Linked DNA regions of Homo sapiens: region 1 is reported to be linked to region 2. Evidence: microRNA targets listed by miRTarBase, many of them from high-throughput screens and not tested one by one. Region 2 holds a microRNA gene; the other region holds the end of a gene's coding sequence.

Region 1 (14,300 bases), not on the chromosome of region 2:
CTGGTCTACATAACCTTCAGAAATAGGTGTTATTATCTCTGTTTTACACAAGAGAAATTAAGTCTTTTAAAGGCTAAGGCTCTGTCCTTGTCCTTGTTCCTTGACCTTAAAATTTCTAACAGACATAGCCTAAACCTGTGCAACCTGCAGACCCCCATCATTCTTGTTTATCTTCTGTCAGGGAGAGCCTCAGCACCTTAGACCTATACAGTGTAGGATGAATCCCTCCTGTTACTGGCAGCAAATCCATACGGGTCTGCAGAAACCACAATTCTTACCTCCTCAGAAGAAACAATTCTGGCCGGGTGTGCTGGCTTATGCCTGTAGTCCCAGCACTTTGGGAGGCCGAGGTAGGAGGATCCCTTGAGCCTAGGAGCTTAAGACCAGCCTGGGCAATATAGGGAGACTCCGTCTCCATTTTTTGTTAAATAATACTTATAAAAATTTTTTAAAAAGAGAATTTGACCAAGGAAACATAAGGCAGAAGGAGAAACTGAGGCAAGTTTTAGTGCAGGAATGAAAGTTTATTAAAACACTTTAAAGCAGGAAGCAAAGGAAAGAAAGTACTCTCAGAAGAGGGCCAAGCAGGTGACTTGAAGCATGGTTTAACTTTGTGACTTGGGGTTTTATATGTTGGCATGCTTCTGGGGGTCTTGTGTTCCTTCTCCCCGGATTCTAACCTTGGGGCGGGCTGTCTGCATGCCCAGTGGCGTGCTAGCACTTGGGAGGGGAGCAAGTTACAGTGTGTTTACTGGATTTATACACAGGCTCACTTGAGGCTTTCTCCCTTACCAGTCGGATGTCCTTAGGAGGTCATATACCAGTTAAACTCCTCCATTTTTCCTCTTAATGCACATGCTTGAGCCCACTTGCCCAGTTTCTGAGATCTTATGAGGAAGCTGCTGATCACCAATTTTAGGTGTTTCTGTTTATTGAGAGATTGCTTTTCCCTGGTGCTGGCTGCGATTAAGTATTATTTTAGAGACACAGTTAACAACCACCTGACCATCACAGGATGGTCGCCTAACAACATTCCTGGTGGGGGGTGGGGAGGCCCTCTCATTCCTTGCTTATCCCTGACTAGTTAACCTGCTGTAACATTCCCACTTCTGCAAGTCACCAGTCAAGGTTAGCTATTTCCAGCTGGAGGAAGCTAACGGTGTTTATGGCCCAGGGGAGTTTAGGCTGTAGATGGCTTGTTTCCAATTTAGTCAGTGGGATGGAGCTGGGAGGAATAGAAAAGATGGAGGAAGAGAGAGAGAGATTAGGGCCCATACACACATTAAGGTTACACACCTACACTGCAAACAAATGGTGCACTGCCTCCAAACAAATCCCCAGTTAAGAGGGCTGGGTAGAGTTCCAAACTCCTTGCCTCAGTTTCAAACGGCCCTCCCCAGGGGACAGTCCAATGTGAGCAAAGCCCTGAGGGTGCCACAAATACAAATGCAAAAAAATGGCCAAATGGTGACACCAACAGCTAAGTCTAAACAGAGCAGAGCCCCAGCAACACCCTAAAAGAGGCAGAGGGAGGCTGGGTGCACATCAGCAGCTCACCTGGTTCCAACATTTGTCGACTTCTTCAAAATGTCACATTCTCTTTGTATCAGTGAAGCTTTGGAAGCAGCAGATGCTGTGACAGAAATAGAAAAGGAGGTTCTGCAAGACAAAGGCACCTTGGCTATTGCTGGAAGCTCCCCTAATGTTCTTACTACAGGGTCAGCTAGCCATGAGCAGCTGGCACTCACAGGTGGCTCCATGGCCCTATCCAACAGAAGATCAGATAGGTGTGTCTGGAGCCTCCTGTGAATACACAGGGCTCCCTGTATGGGCCACCAAAAATTGTAACCAGCAATAGGGGTCCAACTACTTGCCGCTTGTAAAAAGAAGCCAATATAACAAGAGCAAGGTGTGATAGAGTTTTATTATCTGTGCCAGCAAAGGGAAGTGTGGGTGAAATTCCAGAAATTCCAGTCTTCAATTTGTGGAGTGAACATAGGAGTTTTTAAAGAGAGAATGATTTGGAATGCAGGAGAGGAGGGGGTTAGGAGGTGTTAGGTGGCTCAATCTGCTCCAACAGCTTATCTTGAAATATTATTCCATTTGGTGAAGGGGCCAGCACCATCCTGGGCTCAACCAGGTTACAAATTAATTGTAGTAAATCTTGCAGTAAATTTCTAGATGGGAGTGAGTTTTGGCCTTGACTGGGGAGAGAATTCTGGAGGTATCCAGTTTATGCCAGGATCCGGCCCCTGAAGCTTCTAAGGAAATACATGACCAGATAAATGAGCATGGTGTGCACTTAAAAAGCGTCTAGGTAAAAACATGTGCATAAGGCATGGGAGCATAGAATGGGTAAAGAAACGGAGGTTCACATTTTGAGGCTGTATTTCAAGATGAATGGAAACACATGTAGTTTATCTCAAAGTTATATCTTAAAATTGGGGAGAAAGAAAGAAAAAAGTTTTAAAACATGGTTTGAAGCCACGCTACTCGGTTACAGGCTGAATAAAGAGGGTGACAAATCCAGTTTCTCAGAAACATTTAATAGAGACTTTTGAGCAGAAGCCATCTCTTGGGTGGCCTCAAGATGGTGGATTTGGGCACTGTTATCCCCCCAGACCCAGGGTTTATATACCATAGGGAATTTGCCTAAGGGCTGTATTTATGGTAAGTATGTGTTTACGATAACACCAAGGTTGTTTTGACCTAAGGACAAGATTTCCAGTAAGTATATGGAGGTAGAAATCTTAGAGGCATTTCCAGATCCAGGTTTAATCAGAAGTCAGCATGGTGAATTAGCATCTAAAATGGAGTTCCTCTAGCCTCTACTCCTCTACGTACTACTGTTTTTAATTATCTAACTTGGAAAGTTACAAGAAGAACCAACTTATCAGTCCTCCAAAACTATTTTGTGATAATGAGAAAATACCTTTTATGGGGTGCCTGCTGATAATAAATACTTGTTTTCTAGTTGCCAAGTTTCCAGGACAGTGAAGATGATGATGATATTCTGCCAAATATGGACAAAAATCCAACAACTCCATCATCAGTTATCTTTCCATTGGTAAAAACTCCTCAATGTCAGCATGTCAGTCCTGGCATGCTAGGTTCTATAAATAGGTAAATATTCATGCATATGATATGTTAATTCTCTGCATCAGAGTAGTGAGGAACATTTAAACATTTCATGAGGACCATAGATGCCAGTAATGGGAAGAGGCATTATTTAAAAAATCAAGAATGTGTAGTTTCTAGAAGTTAAGGATGGACAAGTTCATCAAATCGGGGTGCTATTCAATAAACAGCATTGTGATATAACCCACATTTACTTCTGGATCAATTCGAAATGGATCAAGGTTTTACTTGTAAAAAACTTTAAAAAAAAAAAACTAAAGAAACCTTGGAGAATTATTTTATAATACCAGATTAGTGATGGTCTTTCTAACTATACTATAAAACCTACAAGCCATTAATGAAAAGATGAATAAAGTCAACTGTGTAAAAATGTTTAACAAATTTTACCTGGTACCAACCACTACAAACAAAAGACAACCTGAGAAAAGAATATATGCAACTTGTCACAGGCAAAAGGCTAATTTCCGTAATATATACAGCATTCCTACAAACTAACAAGGAATGCATTGTTAATTTTTGTGCATTGCTAGTGAGAAGGTAAAGTAGTGCGATCTTTGCAGCAACAATTTGTAAGTATCAAAATTATAAATGCACATGCCCTTTGACTTAGGAATTTTACTTATAGAATTGTGAATGTACAGCTTATTCATTGTAGCATTGTTTAAATGGCAGTACCTCAAAAATCTATCAGTAGGGACTAATTAAATGAACTCTGGTCCATTATATAGTCATAGAAATTAATGAAGAGCCAGGCACAGTGGCTGAAGCCTGTAATCCCAGCACTTTGGGAGGATCACTTGAGCCCAGGAGTTCAAGACCAGCATGGGCAACATAGGAAGACCCCATTTCTACAAAAAAAACCCAAAAATGTTAGCAGGATGCAGTGGGGCAAGCCTGTGGCCCTAGCTACTAGGGAGGCTGATGTAGAAGGATTGCTTGAGTCCCAGAGGTGTAGGCTGCAGTGAGCTGTGATTGCAACAATTGCACTCCATCCTGGGCAACAGAGTGAGATCCTGTCTCAAAAAAAAAAGAAATTAATGAAGATATTTTTTATTGCTATTATGATAAAATGCCTAAGATATATTAAATGAAACAAAGGTAGATGCAGTGAATAATATACTACTGTTTGTGTAAATAGAAGCTATATGTATGTATGCATATATGTATATACTTGTGTGTGTGTGTGTGTGTATAATTGCTTTTATTAGATTAAGTCTTTATAAAAGGATGCATAAGAAACCAAAACATTGGTGATCCTTAGGGAGAACTAAGGTAGCTGGAGGAAGGAGAGGGGGGCTTTTGAATTTTGAACCATGTGAATACAAGAACAATTTGAAACATATAAATAAATAAAATTAAGAAAAAAGTAGGGGTGACTAACAATAAAATGTCACCAAAAAAAGATGGAAAATAGTAAGAATGAGGCCTGAAAATAGGCTATTCCATTTGGCAAGTAAGAGGCCATTGCTGATCTTAGAGCAATTTCCACAGAATGAGAGGCAGAAGCAAGATAATAGTGACTGAGAAAAAAACTATTCAGTACTCTCAGGAAGCTTGCTAAATTGCTAAAATTTTAATTTGCACTTATTGGATAAAAATATAATTTTCCTAGGCATCTAAAAATTATTTTTAGTATTTAGTGCAGGGGAAAGCATACTGAGAATACTATTTTGGACAAATTTTTTGATAAGCACTTTGACCAGTTCATCAAAAGCCTTAAAATATTCATCCGTGGCCGGGCGCGGTAGCTCACACCTGTAATCCCAGCACTTTGGGAGGCTGAGGCCGACGGATCACAAGGTCAGAAGTTCGAGACCAGTCTGGCCAACATAGTGAAACCCCATCTCTACTAAAAATACAAAAAATTAGCCGGATGTGGTGGTGTGTGTCTGTAATCCTAGCTACTCAGAAGGCTGAGGCAGGAGAATCACCTGAACCCGGGAGGCAGAGGTTGCAGTGAGCCGAGATCACGCCATTGCACTCCAGCCTGGGTGACAGTGCGAGACTCCGTCTCCAAAAAAAAAAAAAAAAAAACAACTTCATCCTTTTGGCCGTTGAATTTTATTAGACACTTTAAGGAAATATGAGATTTGGAACACAGATGTTCATCATAAAACATAATACTGAAAGTTTGAGAATGACCAAAACATCCAAAAATAAGGAAAGTTATAAATTAAGATTTATCCATATAATGGAATATGAAACAAATCATGTCTTCAAGAATTTAATGACAGAAAAATGTCCAGTGGATAGTAGTTTTCAAAAGCTAGGAAAACTACATTCAGCATGATCCCAATTTTATGTAACAAATTCGTAAGGAAGGAAATTTCTTAACTTACACATCACCAGCCATTCTTTCTAGGTTGTAGAATGACACCAGTGTGGGTTGTGGGTTTTTGTTTTTTGTTTTGGGGGATATTTTCTGTCCATTTATGTCACTTTTACAATTAAAGAAACACGATAGATTCACTTATGTTATGAATCTATATTGTCTGAAACTTTTTTCTTAAAAAAATGATTTTCTTAGGCTTCTTCACTCTCTCTGACTTTACTAGCTCTAGTAATTGACGTACTTTTCATAACAGTTTTAAGTAATCAAACAGTTATATCACTTCAGAAGTGAAAAACTCTTTGTCTTCAAAGACATCTCTTTGATAATAGACTTACCAGTTGCTGATCCTGAACAACTGGCTAGGCCTGTTCATTTGTTTTTTGTTTGTTTGTGAGATGGAGTTGCTCAGGTTGGAGAGCAGTGGCACAATCTCGGCTCACTACCGCCTCCATCTACCAGGTTCAAGCAATTCTCATGCCTCAGCCTCCCAAGTAGCAGGGATTACAGGCGCATGCCACCGTGCCTGGCTAATTTTTGTATTTTTAGCAGAGATGGGGTTTCACCATGTTGGCCAGGCTGGTCTTGAACTCCTGACTTCAGGTAATCCGCCAGCCTCAGCCTCCCAAAGTGCTGGGATCACACCTGTTCATTTGTTAAGCAATTTGCTAAAAACTGACGAGGTTTATTCATTGCTATACAGCAGTGTTTGATTCAGATAAATATCTTAATAGAGTCACATTTCTTCATGTCATGCCTTTAAGGTTGTTCCCAAATAGTCATAAAGAACAGAGGATACTCAGGTATGTAAGATCTTAGAGCCAAGAGAGAGTATGGAAATGGATGTTCAGCTGGTATTTACTGTCATAAGTGGGATTAGGAATTGTGGGTTTAGGGAATTAAAAACAACCAACAATTCTACTTGGCTTTTAATCTCTTCAGTTATGAGTGAAGCATATTTGCTTGTAAGGGAAGAGATAAGGTAAAGGAAATGAAATAAAGAAAAAAAATTTGGTGGTTGGTATGGGGAATTCAAGAAAGATAAAATTTTGTAGAAATAAAAGGCTTGATGAGCTGGATTAGAAACCCAGCACAGTTGGAAAAATTGACAGTTTTCAATCACCAGGCATATCTTTAAAGTGAATAAACTGAGATTCAATTAGGACAGGGAAGGAAGTGAACAGGAGAGATAATGGTATAGCAAAAGGGAGTCCAAGGAGAAGAAGTCTCAGTGGGAGTTTTGGAAAACCAAGAGAGGCAGCAAGATACCGGAAAGAGCGTAGACGGTACAATGAACGGTAAGCAAAGCATAATTTCCCAAAATAGTCTTGATCAGTATTTCCTGTAAAATGTTTGATTTAAGCATTTTGTCCATCTCCATAGGCACATTTTATTGTCCTCTTTAAAATACAGAATGTACTTTTTAAAGATGGAAATACGTTTGAGGTCAGGCGTGGTGGCTCACGACTGTCATCCCAACACTTTGGGAGGCCCAGGAGGGCAGATTGCTTGATGAGCTCAGTAGTTTGAAACCAGCCTGGGCAATGTGGTGAAACCCTGTCTCTTAAGAAAAATACAAAGATTAGCCAGGCATGATGGCACGTGCCTGTAGTCCAAGCTACTTGGGAGGCTGAGTTGGGAGGATCACTTGAGCCCAGGAGGTTGAGGCTGCAGTGAGCCATTATCATGTTACTGCACTCCAGCCTGGGCGACAGAGTGAGACCCTGTTTCAAAAAAAGAAATACATTTGAAATTAATTTAGGCAATTGTTGTTCAACCTGTGGTTAAAAGTATGACAGTTAACTTAAAATTATTAGGTTGACTTAAAAATATTGTTGACTTAAAATTATTTCGTATTCAAACAGGAATGACTGTGATAAATATGTTTTTCGTATGCAAAAATATCATAAAAGTAATGGTGGTATTGTCTGGGGCAACATCAAGAAAAAATTAGTAAGTATTTTTCTTTATCCAATACATATCTATGAAACAACTTTAATATGTGATAAACTGTGGTAGTTGTAAGTCATGTAACAGTCCCTGTCCCTGAGGTGATTATAATGTAACAAGTTACAATAATGAAGCCATGAATGAGGTAAGCACATAAGTACTGTAGGATTACAGATGGCATCACATTGACTGAAACATTGGAGCAAGGGGAAAATGGCTAAAAACTTTGATTTTTGGGAAATGAAGGGTGGGAAAAATATACACAGAGGTCTGGGAAGGATATTTCAGGCAAAACACAAAAACACAAAACACAAAAACAATCCTGTTCAAGGATTGAAGAATAATTCAGACTGAGTCACAATTCTCATAAAGTAAGAAATTTCATCAAATTCTATGTAGCTTTAAAATGGCTTCAGGTGTTTTTCAGATTTAGCTACTTAATTTTATTTTTTTACTTTTTATTTTTTTACATTCTAACATTTAAAATCCAACTACAGAAAAATTTTTAACTGAAAGATGCCTTAATAGAATGATCTATATCCCTTAGAGAAAAGATTAGGACAGTCCTTTATCCCCTTGAATTACTTTTTAAATTTTTAATTTTCTGATTTTAATTGCAATAACTGATTATCATATATAAGTACTAGGATTCTGGAAAAAGTATTTCATCTCAAATTTCCTCTAAGTAGCTAATCTTCGAGAATGGTAACTTATGGGAACCCCCTTGATTCCCTTGCTTTATGACACTGAGCAAGTTACTTGAGCTTTCTAATACCATTTTATTCATGTGTGGTATGACAATGGGGATCATGATTATATTGATTTATGTTACCAAATGATTTTGAGGTCTAAATGATATAATGCAGTGTTTTACCTCATCTCAGAAAAAAATACATTTATATCACAGTCTGTGAGCATGAATTTGTATCTCAAAAATTTCTTAAAACAGTACTTACTCTAAGGGCTACTATATTTTCTGTTCTGTTACTTTTTATTTTTAAAAGATTTTTAAGGATTGCCAGCCATGGCCAATAGTTTGATAAGCATTGTAATGTGTGTGAGCATGTACTTCAAACTTGCCATTTACTTTACCATTTTAGCCAAGAATTTCAAGTACAGAGAATTAAAATTCTGCTGGTATAAAACATTGTACTGTTATAATAACAGACTGTAGGTAAAAGTAATACAGTAATTAGTATTCTGTATAGTAATTACTATACTGTAATAGTACAGTATAGTATTGTAATTATAATTACTATATATAATCATGATAAATTGTGTTTATATTTTAAGTTTACCAAACCAGTATATTCATTACTTAATTACTTAGCACATTTTGGCAACTTTTGGAGGCCCATAGACTATCCTTTAACTGCTATAGCATTAGTTTATAATAATTTCTTAGAGGAGTGTTTGCCAGCACTGGGAAACAACATTGAGTAAGTCATGGTTCTTGCCCTGGATAAACCCAAAAGAGAATTATGCATTTCACAGATAATTATAATGTGATTAAATGTTGTTATAGGCATATGTTCAAAGTAATCTGGGGATAAGCATGCTTAATTTTGTCTAGATTTGAGGTAGACTTCACCAGGAGGTACCATTTAGCTATTAATAGTAACTCTTTTATAGGTTGAAACTGATTTCTCAACTCCAACACCAAGAAGGAAAACCCCATTTAACACAGGTAATACACTTACAGCTTTCTTTTGTGGCTCAGTTCTATTATAAGGTAGGTTCTTTATTTAAATGGTATTAAAATTAATTGCTCTCAAGTGGACAGACTTAGCATTTTATTCCTTATAGTTGTTTTCAGTTTTATTGAAAGTACTTTTAGAAATTTATTATCTTTTTATTAAACTTCTCTTTACAGACTTAGGAGAAAACTCTGGTATTGGAAAACTTTTCACTAATGCTGTGGAATCTTTAGATGAAGAAGAGAAAGATTATTATTTTTCGAACTCTGATTCTGCATAGTAAAATGAGAAAATATGATTCCTGGGATTTTTACCATAAAGCAGACAGTGTTTGTATTTTCAACTGGAGTACATGTATTTTCTTTGTAAAGTAGCTTCCTATGAAAATGTGGACTTTTTTGAAGGTTTCATATGTTTGTGTTCAAAGTAAAATATCCTCATTGCTGCAGCTTACTAAAAATGTAAAGAAAATTGTTTTTGCTCGTGTAGATATCTGTAAATTTGTTTTTGCATATTAAAATATATATAGATAATTTTTTAATAAGCATCCAAGTCTGTTTACTTTAAGAAAACCATTTCCCAAACAGATTTTTTTTTATTTCAAGAAAATTTTGCTACCATTTAAGTAAGAGAAGGTGAGAAGGATGACAGAGGTTGTATTGGTAGCTATTGAATTCATGAAAACTTTTAAGTTAGCATTTGTTAGCAGTTATTATCCAAGCCAGAGTAGGATTTGTTACCAGTTGTTATCCAAACCTAATGTTTAAATTACACATTGTTGAAATTAAATTACACATTGTTGACATGCTTCTCTCCTGATTGTTTTTATTTTAAACTTGTGATAGGCATATCTATGAAACCTTTGTAAATTTAGTTTATTGCTTTACCATTATTTTACTAGGTAAAATTAGAGAACAGATTTTGTTCTCTAATTTTTAAGCCTTATTTACATATGCAGAAACAGCTTAAATATTTTGACTAGATTAGACAAACAGTTAATAGATCCACCATTAGGAATCAATATATTATGTCATAATAAACATCCTTTTTCTTTCACTGAAATTTCTTTTAGAAATAAACTTATTTTTGCTTGTTATGTTTTGAAACTTGACATAGGATATTTTCCCTCTGGCTACACATTCACCTACCCTTGTTCTCTATTTAGATTATTCAAATAAAGTTAGTTTGCTTTTATAGTATTTGTTTCTTGTTTTTTGTTTGTTACTAATTACTGGATGATAGAAATAAAAACAAATCATGACTGGTCCTGTTTAAGTTTCCTCAAAAAAAAAAAAAATGATTAATAACATTTTCTTGTTTCTTAAGTGTTTTAGTCAGAGCAGGCATGGTGTCATGTATCTGTAGTCTCAACTACCTGGGAGGCTGAGGAAGGAGGATAGCTTGAGCCCAGGAGTTCAAGGCTGAACTGTGCTATGATCATGCCTGCAACTGGCCACTGCACCCTAGCCTGGGTAACAGAGACTCCTTTTAAAATAAATAAATAAATAAAATAAAATAGTAATAATCAGCAGTTATATAATTATAGGACTTACGGAAACACTGTAAAAAGAACAGTGCAATTGGACTAAGATAATTCTTTCTTTAAACTACCATGATTATTTCTGCCATAAAGACCCTTGGTGGATATAGAATGGATCAAAAGAAAGGGTTATTTTGGAGTGGCCAAAAAAAATGCCGTTGCAGAACTTGAGTTGCCAATATTTGATCTAATGCTATACTGCTTGAAGTTAATGGATAGTGTTTTAGGAGTTAAGAAAGTGGTTAAATCCCTTAACAAAAAGTAAAAAGGTAATTGAAATGGCATAAACTTGAGTTTGACCCCTACTGCCCATATATCCGTATCAGAACTTCAGCGCCTTCCCTATACTAAGGTATCTCACCGGCCAGGTACCTGGCTTGTCCTATTTCTATCAGGTCATAAGATGAACTAATGATAAGGTTTAAGGTAAGTAACCCCCAAAGGAAACTTAAAAGTGGAAAAGAAAAAAGACCTTAAGGACTTAAATAATAAGATGGATAATGAATGGTTAATGGCTACCAATGAGGATATAGGAGGAGGCTATTGCAAGCCTAAATATGGATAGAGCTCTCCATACAGCAAGCATAAATAAATGAAATCCTCTAGGTTATGTCTGTAACACCATGTTAATTTATGTACTTTTTTTTGTCTGACGGGTGCACACACAGCTGAGTCTGAGCAGGTGGTGGTATCTCTGTGTGAGGTTGTTGAGGGACTGCATGATTCTGGCATGCAGCTGGGGCAAAGCACCACCAGATGTCCCTACCCACAGGCCCTGCTGACAATGTGGCAGGAGCAAGATACATGAAGATGTAGCACAGTGGAACCACAAAGAGGCTCCTTTCCTCCTGTCACAGCTTAGCATTGTGCTCACTACTAAAGGAGAAATACTCAAAAAGTCCAGTTATAATAAACTGATAACTGCACACTAGGCAATAACTTAGTGTTTCCTCTCTGTGGTTTTGACAGAATTATTGAGCAGCATACATAAGTCAGCTGCTTTCATACAAATTGAGAGTTGATACTATCTCAAAGGAGCTAAACAATTAGAGTAACTTTTTTGTCCCCTTTTATCAACACCATAGAGTGAAAGAGAATGATACCTAGTTTGTGAGTTCTGCTTCTAGATTTGCCAGTCTAAACTTGAATAAGTCACTTGTTTCTGGGCATCACTTTTATCATTTGGTAAGAAAGGAAAGAGAAGTGATTTGAATTACATGAGCTCTGAAGTCCCCGCCAGATTTAAGGTGAGGAGAGCTCTGCAGTGAGGCTGGTTCAACTACCCAACAATGTAATAGGGGTAAAAATGAGGCCGAGAATAAAGGACTCACATAATTCAAGGCTGCTTTAGTACTAGACTGACTAGAAGAAAGATGTCATATATATTGCAGATACAAGAAAAGCCTTCTTTTTTGGTTTGTGTTTGTTTTTGTTTGTTTTTGAGATAGAGTCTGGCTCTATCGCCCAGGCTGGAGTGCAGTGGCACGATCTCAGCTCACTGGAAGCTCCGCCTCCCGGGTTCACGCCATGCTCCTGCCTCAGCCTCCTGAGTAGCTGGGACTACAGGTGTCTGCCACCATGCCCGGCTAATTTTTTTATATTTTTAGTAGAGACGGGATGGGGTTTCACCGTGTTAGCCAGGATGTTCTTGATCTCCTGACTTCGTGATCCGCCCCCCTCGGCCTCCCCAAGTGCTGGGATTACAGGCGTGAGCCACCGCGCCCGGCCCCAAGCAGAGCCTTCTTAATGCCATCACAGACAACAGAATGGATCAAAACGGTAAATATAATAGGGTCAACATAATGGGCCTGCATTCAGTAATTTATATTAAAAAGAAACTTTCTAAGTCCAAACCAATATACCATTTTGAATATATTTCAGCAACAAAAAAGAGTAATGTAGCTGGGAGTTTGTATTAGTCCATTCTCACGCTGCTATGAAGAAATAACCCGACTGGGTAATTTATAAGGAAAAGATGTTTAATTGACTCACAGTCCTGCATGGCTGGGGAGGCCTCGGGAACTTACAATCATGGTGGAGGGGAAGCAAACGTTTCCTTTTCCACATGGCAGTAGGCAAGAGAACTGCAGAGTGAACAGAGGAAAAGCTTATAAAACCATCAGATCCTCTGAGAACTATCACTAGAACAGCATGGGGGAACCGCCCCCATGAGCTAATCACGTTCCAGGAGGTCCCTCCCCAATATATTGGGATTATAATTCAGATTACAAGTCAAGATGAGATTTTGGTTGGGGACACAGCCAAACCATATCAGAGTTCATATTAATAGATTTGACAGTACTTAACTGGGACACACCTTTGGTCAGATAAACATTCAGTTAAGTTTTCTACTTTCCTAGTTACTGGGTCATTTATCTCACAACCCACCCATCACCCACACCTTACCAAGTACATGTATTTAGAATCAGTACACTTAAAAGTATACTATCTACACATAGGGAAAATCGACAAGTTGGCTGTAGTCATAGACATGTCAACTTTACTATTTATCACAACAGTACAACTTTAATTTTGGGAAACATTCCAAAGTATATCTCTAGCTTAGCTTTTACTTTCTTAAACTATCCTTAGTAACACTTTTAATAAACCTTGTTTTATTTAATAAGAAAAATTAGTTTTATAATCTAGTCAAAATGATCACTGAACATCAGATTTTTCTTTTTTAATAATTTCTATAATCTATAAATAAAAATGTATACAATATAAAATATTTAAATAAAATATTCTCTTATTTACAAATAAACATAAAACAGCAATGATTATTGAAGTGCATTTAATATTGTGAGAGGTCTTTGAAAACCCCATCTTGAGCAGCTTGATTATATATCAGATTTCAGTCTATCTTGGTTAAGATCATTTGGTAACATTTGTATGTCAAATACATAGTGAATATATCTATAGATCTCCTCAGCCTTCTGATGAGTTACTTGTGCATACATGGAGATTTCTTGAAGTGAGCTGAAAAATAAATGAGACAAAATCATTACACTAGGACTTTTGGCTTTTATAAAATTTAATATTACCTAAAGAACACCAAACACAGTAGCCTTTAAGGAAATCATCTCAAGCATTATCCGCCCAGCTGATATGTCTTGAACATTAGTTTGGATAAAAGAGCTACTTGTTTCCTTTCCTTAAAATTATCTAGAATAACAATTTCAACATCTTCAATGAACTGAATGTTTTTGTGTTGCCCAAAATTCATATGTTGAAGCCGTAATCCCAATGTGATGGTATTTGGAAGTGGCAACTTTGAGAATTAGTTGATAAAGGTGGATATCCTTGTGCACTTTTAAGAAGAGGTCAAAGAGCTAGCTAGCTCTATTTCTGCCATGTGAGGATACAATGAGAAGGCAGTAGTCTGTGACTCAGTAGAAAGCTCTCTCCAGAACCCAGCCATGATCTCAGACTTCCAGTATCCAGAACTGGCAGAAATAAATTTGTGTTGTTTGTGTATTTTATCATTGCAGCATGAGCTAAGACAGTATCTGATGTAGGCCTTTAATTAAAATGAACTACATTCTAAAATCTCCCTCTTCAAGCAATATAATGATCACAACTAGTAAAATACTCATTTTTCTTGTTACAGAACTGAACAGCCCAGAAATGTTAGATTGCAAGGTCA
Region 2 (8,440 bases):
GGGGACATGAGGCGAGCCCACCCACTAGCTGATCACGAGGCCAGTGATCTTGGCAGCTGCGAGTGAGTGCTGGGCGCAGAAGTGGGCAGCGGAGTTGGTCCTGTTCCAGGCAGGCTGGCAGCAGAGCAGGGCCTGGTGCAGGGAGGACCGGACAGCCACTGTTTGCTGCATTCTTGTTTAATGGCCTTTCTCAGAGAGAATTCGTGCGTCAGACCACTCCCCCACGTAAAAAGTACAACTCAGGGGTTTCTAGTGGATTCACAGTTGAGCATCTGCCTTCTCACCACTTCAAAAAGAAACCCCGGGCCGGGCACAGCGGCTCACCCCTATCATCCCAGCACTGTAAGAGACCCAGGAGGGAGGTACTGCTCAAGGCCAGGAGTTCAAGATCTGCACGGCCACAAGCGAGACCCTGCCTCAGCAAATGTAAAAATAAAACAATTAGCTGGCAATGGCAGCTCATGCCTATGGTCCCAGCACTTTGGGAGGCCAAAGGAGGAGGATCAGTTGAGGCCAGGAGTTTTAAGACCAGCCTGGGCAACATAGTGAGTGAGACTCTCTCTACAAAAAAATAAACGTTAGCTGGGTGTGATGGTGCACACTTGTGCTCCCAGCTACTCTGGAGGCTGAGGTGGGAGGATGGCTTGAGGCCAGGAGTACAGGGCTGCATTAAGCCTGATCACACCACTGCACTCCAGCTTGGGCAACAGAGTGAGACCCTGTCTCTAAAAAAGTAAAAAGAAGAAACCCAGTGCCCATTGGCTGTCACTCGGTTTCCCCTCCCCTGGCCCCTAGTAACCCCTTGTCTAGGTCCTGGTTCTATGAGATTTGCCTACAGTGGATATTTCATGAAAACAGGCTCAGACAGCGTTTGTCCTTTTGTAATCAGCTTTCCTTGCTCAGCATGGTGTCTCTGAGGTCCACCCACGTGGCAGTATGGCCTTCCTGTTTATGGGCAAATGATATTCTGTGGCATGGATGGACCACAACATGCTCATCTGTTGATGGGCTGTTGCCCGTGATGCTGCCAGGCACGCCGGTGTACACGTCTGTGTGCCCGTGCCCCTGGTCCTGTGGCTGCACGCCAGGGCCGGAAGTGCTGGTGGTGGTTTCCATCATGAGGAGCTGCTGGTTTTCCATAGCAGCTCCACCATCTAAGGTTCCCACCACCAACACGAGGTTGCGGTTTCTCCACATCCTCAACAACCTGTTACTATGTCTTTTTTGTTCTGGCCATGCTGCTGAACGGGTGGCTTGCTGTGGGCTCTTCTCAGTTCCCTGTTGACCGACGCTGAGCGTCTTTTCATGTGCTTGGCCATTTGTGTATCTTCTCTGGGGAAATGTCTATTCAAATCCTTTCTCCATAGTTTAGTTGGGCTTTTGAGATAGGATCTCAGGCTGAAGTGCAGTGGCATGACCTTCACTCACTGTAGCCTCTGCCTCCCAGGTTCAAGCGATTCTCCCACCTCAGCCTCCCGAGTAGCTGGGACTACAGGTGTGCACCACCAGGCCTGGCTAGTCTTTTGTATTTTTGGCCAGGTTCGTCTCAAACTCCTGACCTCAAAGTGCTGGGATGACAAGTGTGAGCCGCCACACCCAGCAGTTGGGTTGTTTTTTATTAGAGTTTTTTCTGTTTTTCTGCAGATACATTGGCTAGAAATGACTGAATTGGAAGAATTCTCTGTATTCTCTGGTTGCTAGAACCTTATCAATTAAAATTTGCAGAAAATTTCTCCAATTCTATGGACTGTCTCTTAAATTTTCTTGGTGTCTTTGGAAGCACAAAGTATTTATTTTGGTAATATCTGGTTTACTTTGTTTCCTTCGCCAAATCCAGGTTCATGAAGATTTGCCCGTTTTCTTCTAAAAGTTCTATAGTTTTAGCTCTGAAGTTTCGCTCTTTGATCCACTTTGAGGTAAATTTTGGCACATGGTATGAGGCAGGAGTTGCGTTTCATTCTCCTGCCTGGGGCGGTGCCTGCACCGTGTTGAAAAAGGTTGTCCGTTCCCACTGAACGGTCACAGCTCCCTTGTCTAAGATCAACGACCCCTGAACATGAGGGTTCCAACTGGACTCTTAGTTCTACTCCACTGGCCTGTGTCTGCCCACCATTACTACCGCTGTGCCATACTGAGGTCAGGCTGGGGCTTTTCTGGGCTGCTGGGTGAGCTGGAGAATGCGGTTGTGTGACCCGCAGGAAGGGCAGAGCTGAGCGTATGACCTGTGTCGTTCCCCTCCAGAAATACCCGCAGCCCAAAGGGCAGAAGAAGAAGAAGATCGTCAAGTACGGCATGGGTGGCCTCATCATCCTCTTCCTCATCGCCATCATCTGGTTCCCACTGCTCTTCATGTCGCTGGTGCGCTCCGTGGTTGGGGTTGTCAACCAGCCCATCGATGTCACCGTCACCCTGAAGCTGGGCGGCTATGAGGTGAGCATGTGTGGGTCCGCCTGTCCATTCCCATCCCCTGGGGGTTCTGGCCAAGGTGGTGCACCACCCCCAGCCGCTCCTCCACGCTCATCTTCGTGGCCCCGTGTCCCCGTGCCTGCCCCAGCCGCTGTTCACCATGAGCGCCCAGCAGCCGTCCATCATCCCCTTCACGGCCCAGGCCTATGAGGAGCTGTCCCGGCAGTTTGACCCCCAGCCGGTAAGTGGCCTCTGCCCTGTGAAAGCTGGTGTGGGGAGGCGGCTGCAGTCACTGAGGGTGTCACTTGTACCCAGCTGGCCATGCAGTTCATCAGCCAGTACAGCCCTGAGGACATCGTCACGGCGCAGATTGAGGGCAGCTCCGGGGCGCTGTGGCGCATCAGTCCCCCCAGCCGTGCCCAGATGAAGCGGGAGCTCTACAACGGCACGGCCGACATCACCCTGCGCTTCACCTGGAACTTCCAGAGGTTCGTCCTGGACTTGGGGCAGTGCCTGGGTGGGTGGACCCACTACAGTGGGTCACGCTGTGTTCCCACCCCCAGGGACCTGGCGAAGGGAGGCACTGTGGAGTATGCCAACGAGAAGCACATGCTGGCCCTGGCCCCCAACAGCACTGCACGGCGGCAGCTGGCCAGCCTGCTCGAGGGCACCTCGGACCAGTCTGTGTGAGTGAAGGGCCCGGGTGGTGGGCAGGAGGGCTGTGCCAGGTTGGCTGGGCCAGGCCTGACCTGCCAGCACCTCCCTGCAGGGTCATCCCTAATCTCTTCCCCAAGTACATCCGTGCCCCCAACGGGCCCGAAGCCAACCCTGTGAAGCAGCTGCAGCCCAGTGAGTATGGGCGTGGGGGTTGGGGGAGGCTAGAGAGGGGTGACCTGCGGCCTCAACGATCTTCTCCCTCCATCCCAGATGAGGAGGCCGACTACCTCGGCGTGCGTATCCAGCTGCGGAGGGAGCAGGGTGCGGGGGCCACCGGCTTCCTCGAATGGTGGGTCATCGAGCTGCAGGAGTGCCGGACCGACTGCAACCTGCTGCCCATGGTCATTTTCAGTGACAAGGTCAGCCCACCGAGCCTCGGCTTCCTGGCTGGCTACGGGTGAGTGAGTGGCTGGGGGGGCACCCCGCAGCTCGGGGGGCTCCGGGCGGCCCCAGGACTCACCAGCTTCCCCCGCAGCATCATGGGGCTGTACGTGTCCATCGTGCTGGTCATCGGCAAGTTCGTGCGCGGATTCTTCAGCGAGATCTCGCACTCCATTATGTTCGAGGAGCTGCCGTGCGTGGACCGCATCCTCAAGCTCTGCCAGGACATCTTCCTGGTGCGGGAGACTCGGGAGCTGGAGCTGGAGGAGGAGTTGTACGCCAAGCTCATCTTCCTCTACCGCTCACCGGAGACCATGATCAAGTGGACTCGTGAGAAGGAGTAGGAGCTGCTGCTGGCGCCCGAGAGGGAAGGAGCCGGCCTGCTGGGCAGCGTGGCCACAAGGGGCGGCACTCCTCAGGCCGGGGGAGCCACTGCCCCGTCCAAGGCCGCCAGCTGTGATGCATCCTCCCGGCCTGCCTGAGCCCTGATGCTGCTGTCAGAGAAGGACACTGCGTCCCCACGGCCTGCGTGGCGCTGCCGTCCCCCACGTGTACTGTAGAGTTTTTTTTTTAATTAAAAAATGTTTTATTTATACAAATGGACAATCAGAGGCCAGTCCCCCGTCCTTGCCTTCCGGCTCCAGTGTGGTGTACCAGGTGGCCACTGCCTGCTGTCCCGGCAAGCACGTCCTCACGCTCAGCTCTGGCCCGCCTCGTCGTCACTGTCCTCAATCAGACAGTCCCGGATCTCCTGCAAGCCCCAGGCCCTAGAGAGAAAGCTGCAGTGGGCACCAGCCCCGAGGCCCCTTACCCACGCGCCACGGCAGTGTGGGCCCCAGTACCTCTGTGTGCGGAGCTGGGCCTCAGCCAGGATGTACGGCGGCAGGGGGTCCAGTGAGGGCTGCAACAGAGGCCGGTGTCGAGGGGCCAAGAAACCTGCCAGCACCCCCTCAAGCCACCCACGAGGTGACGGCCTTCCCGCGTCCCCAAGCCCGGCCCAGGACAGGTGGGCACGTACTCACCAAGTCCTTCATGTTCACGCGGCAGCTGTAGCACAGCTGCTCCTCAATGCAGGCTTGGGGGTCCTCCCTGCGGGAGCAGAGCTGGCTGTGTGCCCACCTTGGCACCTCAATGCCGTGCAGTGTGGGGTAAGGACAGGTCCCCCTCCCGCCCCATGCAGCTGGCCATGGGTGGCAGGGACAGGGACTCACCTCCTGCAGGCCCCCTGGCCACAGCGCTGGGCCCAGCCCACCCCTGGAGAACAGCAGGGCCCCGGGGGTGTCCGGGTCTCAGTCAGGGGGATGGGTGACTGCATCTGGGAGAGACGCGAGGAGGTCTGAGCCCCAAAAGCCGTGGCACTGTCTGCAAGCAGAGAGGGGGTGACGGAGCCTGGGGCTGCTGAGCCCCCACACCCACTCCCTGGCTCCCTCCCCGCATCACCCCAAGAGCATGAAACACAGACCAGCGGCGTCGACGTCCAGGGCACACATGCAGAGGAGGCAGCGGGGGCCGGAGTCGCCAGCAGCAGGGCCATCCCGGGGGCCCTTCACCAGCTTCTCACTTGTCCTGTGGCCGGATTGTGGGAGGAGCAGGTGAATCACACGGGCTGGGGCTCCACCCTAAGCCCTGGCCTGAGCACGAGTGGTGAGCTCACCACCCGCACACACCCGCGCACAGCACACACCCGCGCACCCCCCGCACACACCCACACACACCCACACCTGTACACAGTGCTGACAGTGGAGGGGAACTGGGTCTGCAGCCTGAGGATGAAGGCCTCCATCAGCCGGTGGATGCTGGCCTTTTCAGGGGCCTAGGGACAATCAGATTGGAGGCTATGGGAAAGCCCAGAGGCCAGCCCCAGGCTGGGGCAGAGTCCCCAGGACAGGTGCCGTGGGTTCCACGCTGCTGGCCCACATGGGTCTGGCTTTGCTGCGACTGCTCAAGGCAGCCAGAGAACCCGCTTCAGCAGTGCACCCACTGTGGGGTCCTCCTGTCACCCCCACACCCTCACGGCACAGGGTGGGCTCAGAGGATGCAGCACTGCTGGGGGCCACAGCAGGAGTCACTGAAGGTGTGCTGGTGACCTGAGCCTGTGAGAGGCTGCCCAGCCCACATGGCCCACCCCGGTGTCAATGGTGAGAGAGGTTGCCCAGCCCACAAGGCCCACCTTGGTGTCGACGGCTGGTGTGAAGACAGAAGGAACGGAGAACAGGCGGTTGTAGAAAGCGACCTCCTTCAGGGTGTGGTCCCGCATGGGCCGCACCACCACCACGTCCCCGTGCCGCTCATCCGAGAAGCCCTGCGGGAGGCAGGGGCTGTGTGGTCCAGGTCAAGGCCCGAATGTGCTTGCCCCTCCTCCCCTGCCAGGTAGGGGAGGTCACAGACCCCACCACCATCCGAGGCCGCAGGACTGATACGCGAGAGGCTACTCTCCAGTAAAGGTGGCCGAAGGGGTGAAGGTGAGGATGGGCCTCCTGAACACCCAGGCCCCTGCCTACCGTATCCCAGGCCAGGAAGGCCCCTCGACCCAGCGCCAGGTTGGTCATGAGCTTGATAGCCAAGCGTGTGCAGCTGTCCCCAGTCATGACCTTGGAGTAGCCGTGGGCTCGGGCCATGTGGAGGATCAGGTGGGTCCTAAAGCACAGAGCGTCTCAGGGGCCTGGGGGGTGCAGGACCCGGGGAAGGGGGGCTCTCGGGTATGAGTGGGGGTCAGGGCCCGGGGAAGGGGGGCTCTCAGGGGTATGAGTGGGGGTCAGGGCCCGGGGAAGGGGGGCTCTCAGGTATGAGTGGGGGTCAGGGCCCGGGGAAGGGGGGCTCTCAGGGGCATGAGTGGGGGTCAGGGCCCGGGGAAGGGGGCTCTCGGGCATGAGTGGGGGTCAGGGCCCGGGGAAGGGGGGCTCTCAGGGGCATGAGTGGGGGTCAGGGCCCGGGGAAGGGGGGCTCTCAGGGGCATGAGTGGGGGTCAGGGCCCGGGGAAGGGGGCTCTCAGGGGCATGAGTGGGGGTCAGGGCCCGGGGAAGGGGGGCTCTCGGGGCCTCACCGCAGGGTCTGCAGAAGCTCCTCCTTGGCAGTCAGTGTCCTCACTGAGCAGAACAGTTGGGAAAGAGCCTCAGTCTGGGCAGGGGCAGGCGGTCTTGCCAGGTTCTGGGGGTCCAGCGGGGGCTGGGGTGGCTGTTCCTCCCCTTGAGTCGGGCCAGGACCACCCCCGGCCCCCAGCACATGCTGCTGCTGGAGGAAGCTGTCCACGGCCGCCTTGTAGGCCCCCTCGGATCCCACCAGCTCCTGGGCAGAGCACCAAAGCACCGACGGTGGCAGGCTGAACACCTTCCGGGATGAGGGAGACGCCAGTGAGGCCCGGGACACGGGCAGGTGCCCCCCACAGACAGCCCCACCTTCCGGGATGCGGGAGACGGCAGTGAGGCTGGGGCACGGGCAGGTGCCTCCCACCCCCCACCGACAGCCCCGCCTTCTGGGATGAGGGAGAGGCCAGTGAGGCTGGGACACGGGCAGGTGCCCCCCAGGGGTCACCTCCGGGACCCCTTTCCAGGGACAGCCCTCCCACCTCCTCTAAGGCCACCACATGCCATGGGAACCCAGTTGCTTGCAGAATGGGCTTCACTTCGGCCAGGGTCTTTGATCTCTCCTCTAGGCTCTGGCCACAGGCTGCTCCCTCTGAAAAACCCAGGCAGAAAGAGTCAGGGCTCAGAGAGGAGCCAGGCAGGGCAGGCTGCAGGGCCACCTCCACCTGGGAAAACCCTTCGAGGCCTCGCTCCGCAGGGCGGTGCTTCCTGGCGGAGCTGTGGGGTGTCGGCCATTTTCCTTTGGGCAGGGGTTTCTCTCTTGCGGCTGACCTCAGCGCTACAGTCAACACCCCAGGAGTTCGTTCTGCAGGAGCAAGGGTCGGGGAGTCGGCCCCTGGGCCCCCGCTCACCATCAGCACTTAACTTGCCCTTCTTTGTCCCCAGACCCCGTGATGGGGGCTGGGCAGCCGCCACTCCTGCTCCCACCCCCGACTTTCTAAGGATGTTCTTAGATTCCAGGAACAGTGATGCCACCTAACGATGGATACATCTGCTGCCTCCTTCAGGGAGATGTCCCCACCAGGCCCTCAGTGCAGGGGCAGCACCAGTAGCTCAACACATCCTACCAGAGGGAGGACCGGCACCAGAGGGAGGGTCCACACCAGAGGGAGGATCCGCAGGGCTTACCCCAAGTGGCCAGGGACTAGGAGGAGCAATGGCCCCACATACCGTCAACAAAGATGACTCCTGCCACAAAGCGCAGTCTTTTGGCAGAATCTTGGCTCAGGCCCTAGAGGGAGAAGCAGCAGGGACTCAGCCCCCAGCCATAAGCCACAGGACACTTTTCCAGCTCAGAACATTCTTCATCTGGATTTAATGCCATCTTGGAAGGTGAAGTGGTCTTCCCCTGCCATTGCGTTTATTGGACAAAGCCATTCAGACTCAGGTGCCGGGCAGGCCCAGTAGGCGAGGCCGCACGCCCGACTTATTTTAAAGGGTAGCCTGGGGGTCTTCATCCCCCTGGTAAAACATGCCCCTCACCAGCTGGTCCTGGATGTCCCAACAACGCCCCAGGAGAGGGGGCTGGGTTACGGGGCCACTGTGCCACCATCCCACACGCTTCTGACCACTAAGGAAGCACTTGCTCTCACAAGCAGAAACCAACAGCCTGCAAGAGGCAGGGGCGCCGCTGGGCACAGGAAGGGCAGCACCAGCGTTACACAGAGGGCTGGGCCAGTTCCCTCACAACACCCTCCTGGCAGGTTCAGGGGACCTCAGAAAACAGAAAACTAATTTCAGCAGTGTTGTGCCATGCGCCCATCCTGAGACCAACACCCCACTCCTCAACCCGGCAAAGCCGACCCCTCTCCTCTCAACCACCCAGCCCACAGAAACAGCCTCCTCCGGTCTGC

The links. Region 2 holds the annotated microRNA hsa-miR-4722-3p (ACCUGCCAGCACCUCCCUGCAG, at 3,154-3,175, shown strand). A microRNA usually pairs through its seed, bases 2 to 8, with sites in the 3' UTR of a target mRNA and lowers its output. Matches are read on the target gene's strand: a 7mer-m8 pairs with bases 2 to 8, a 7mer-A1 pairs with bases 2 to 7 and ends in A, and an 8mer does both.
Region 1: miRTarBase lists FANCM as a target of hsa-miR-4722-3p. The part of its 3' UTR that is shown has no 7-base or 8-base seed match.

Annotation. Positions count from the first base shown.
Region 1 is chr14:45,199,203-45,213,502 of GRCh38, reverse strand. FANCM (FA complementation group M) reads right to left here. Exons shown (of 23, transcript NM_020937.4): 23 at 12,613-13,633. The coding sequence ends at 13,495. It overlaps MIS18BP1 (MIS18 binding protein 1), which reads left to right. Exons shown (of 17, transcript NM_018353.5): 14 at 2,975-3,123; 15 at 7,333-7,420; 16 at 9,050-9,104; 17 at 9,291-10,313. The coding sequence ends at 9,394. Among named protein-coding and RNA genes, the nearest start is that of MIS18BP1, 47 kb to the left of the region's middle.
Region 2 is chr16:88,711,013-88,719,452 of GRCh38, reverse strand. MIR4722 (microRNA 4722) reads left to right here and starts at 3,116; the gene lies at 3,116-3,175. CTU2 (cytosolic thiouridylase subunit 2) reads right to left here. Exons shown (of 15, transcript NM_001012759.3): 5 at 7,758-7,818; 6 at 7,070-7,179; 7 at 6,548-6,831; 8 at 6,006-6,141; 9 at 5,675-5,806; 10 at 5,226-5,317; 11 at 4,967-5,070; 12 at 4,716-4,866; 13 at 4,527-4,593; 14 at 4,347-4,405; 15 at 4,057-4,271. The coding sequence ends at 4,202. It overlaps PIEZO1 (piezo type mechanosensitive ion channel component 1 (Er blood group)), which reads left to right. Exons shown (of 51, transcript NM_001142864.4): 45 at 2,242-2,430; 46 at 2,555-2,647; 47 at 2,722-2,894; 48 at 2,970-3,092; 49 at 3,176-3,255; 50 at 3,334-3,520; 51 at 3,599-4,115. The coding sequence ends at 3,848.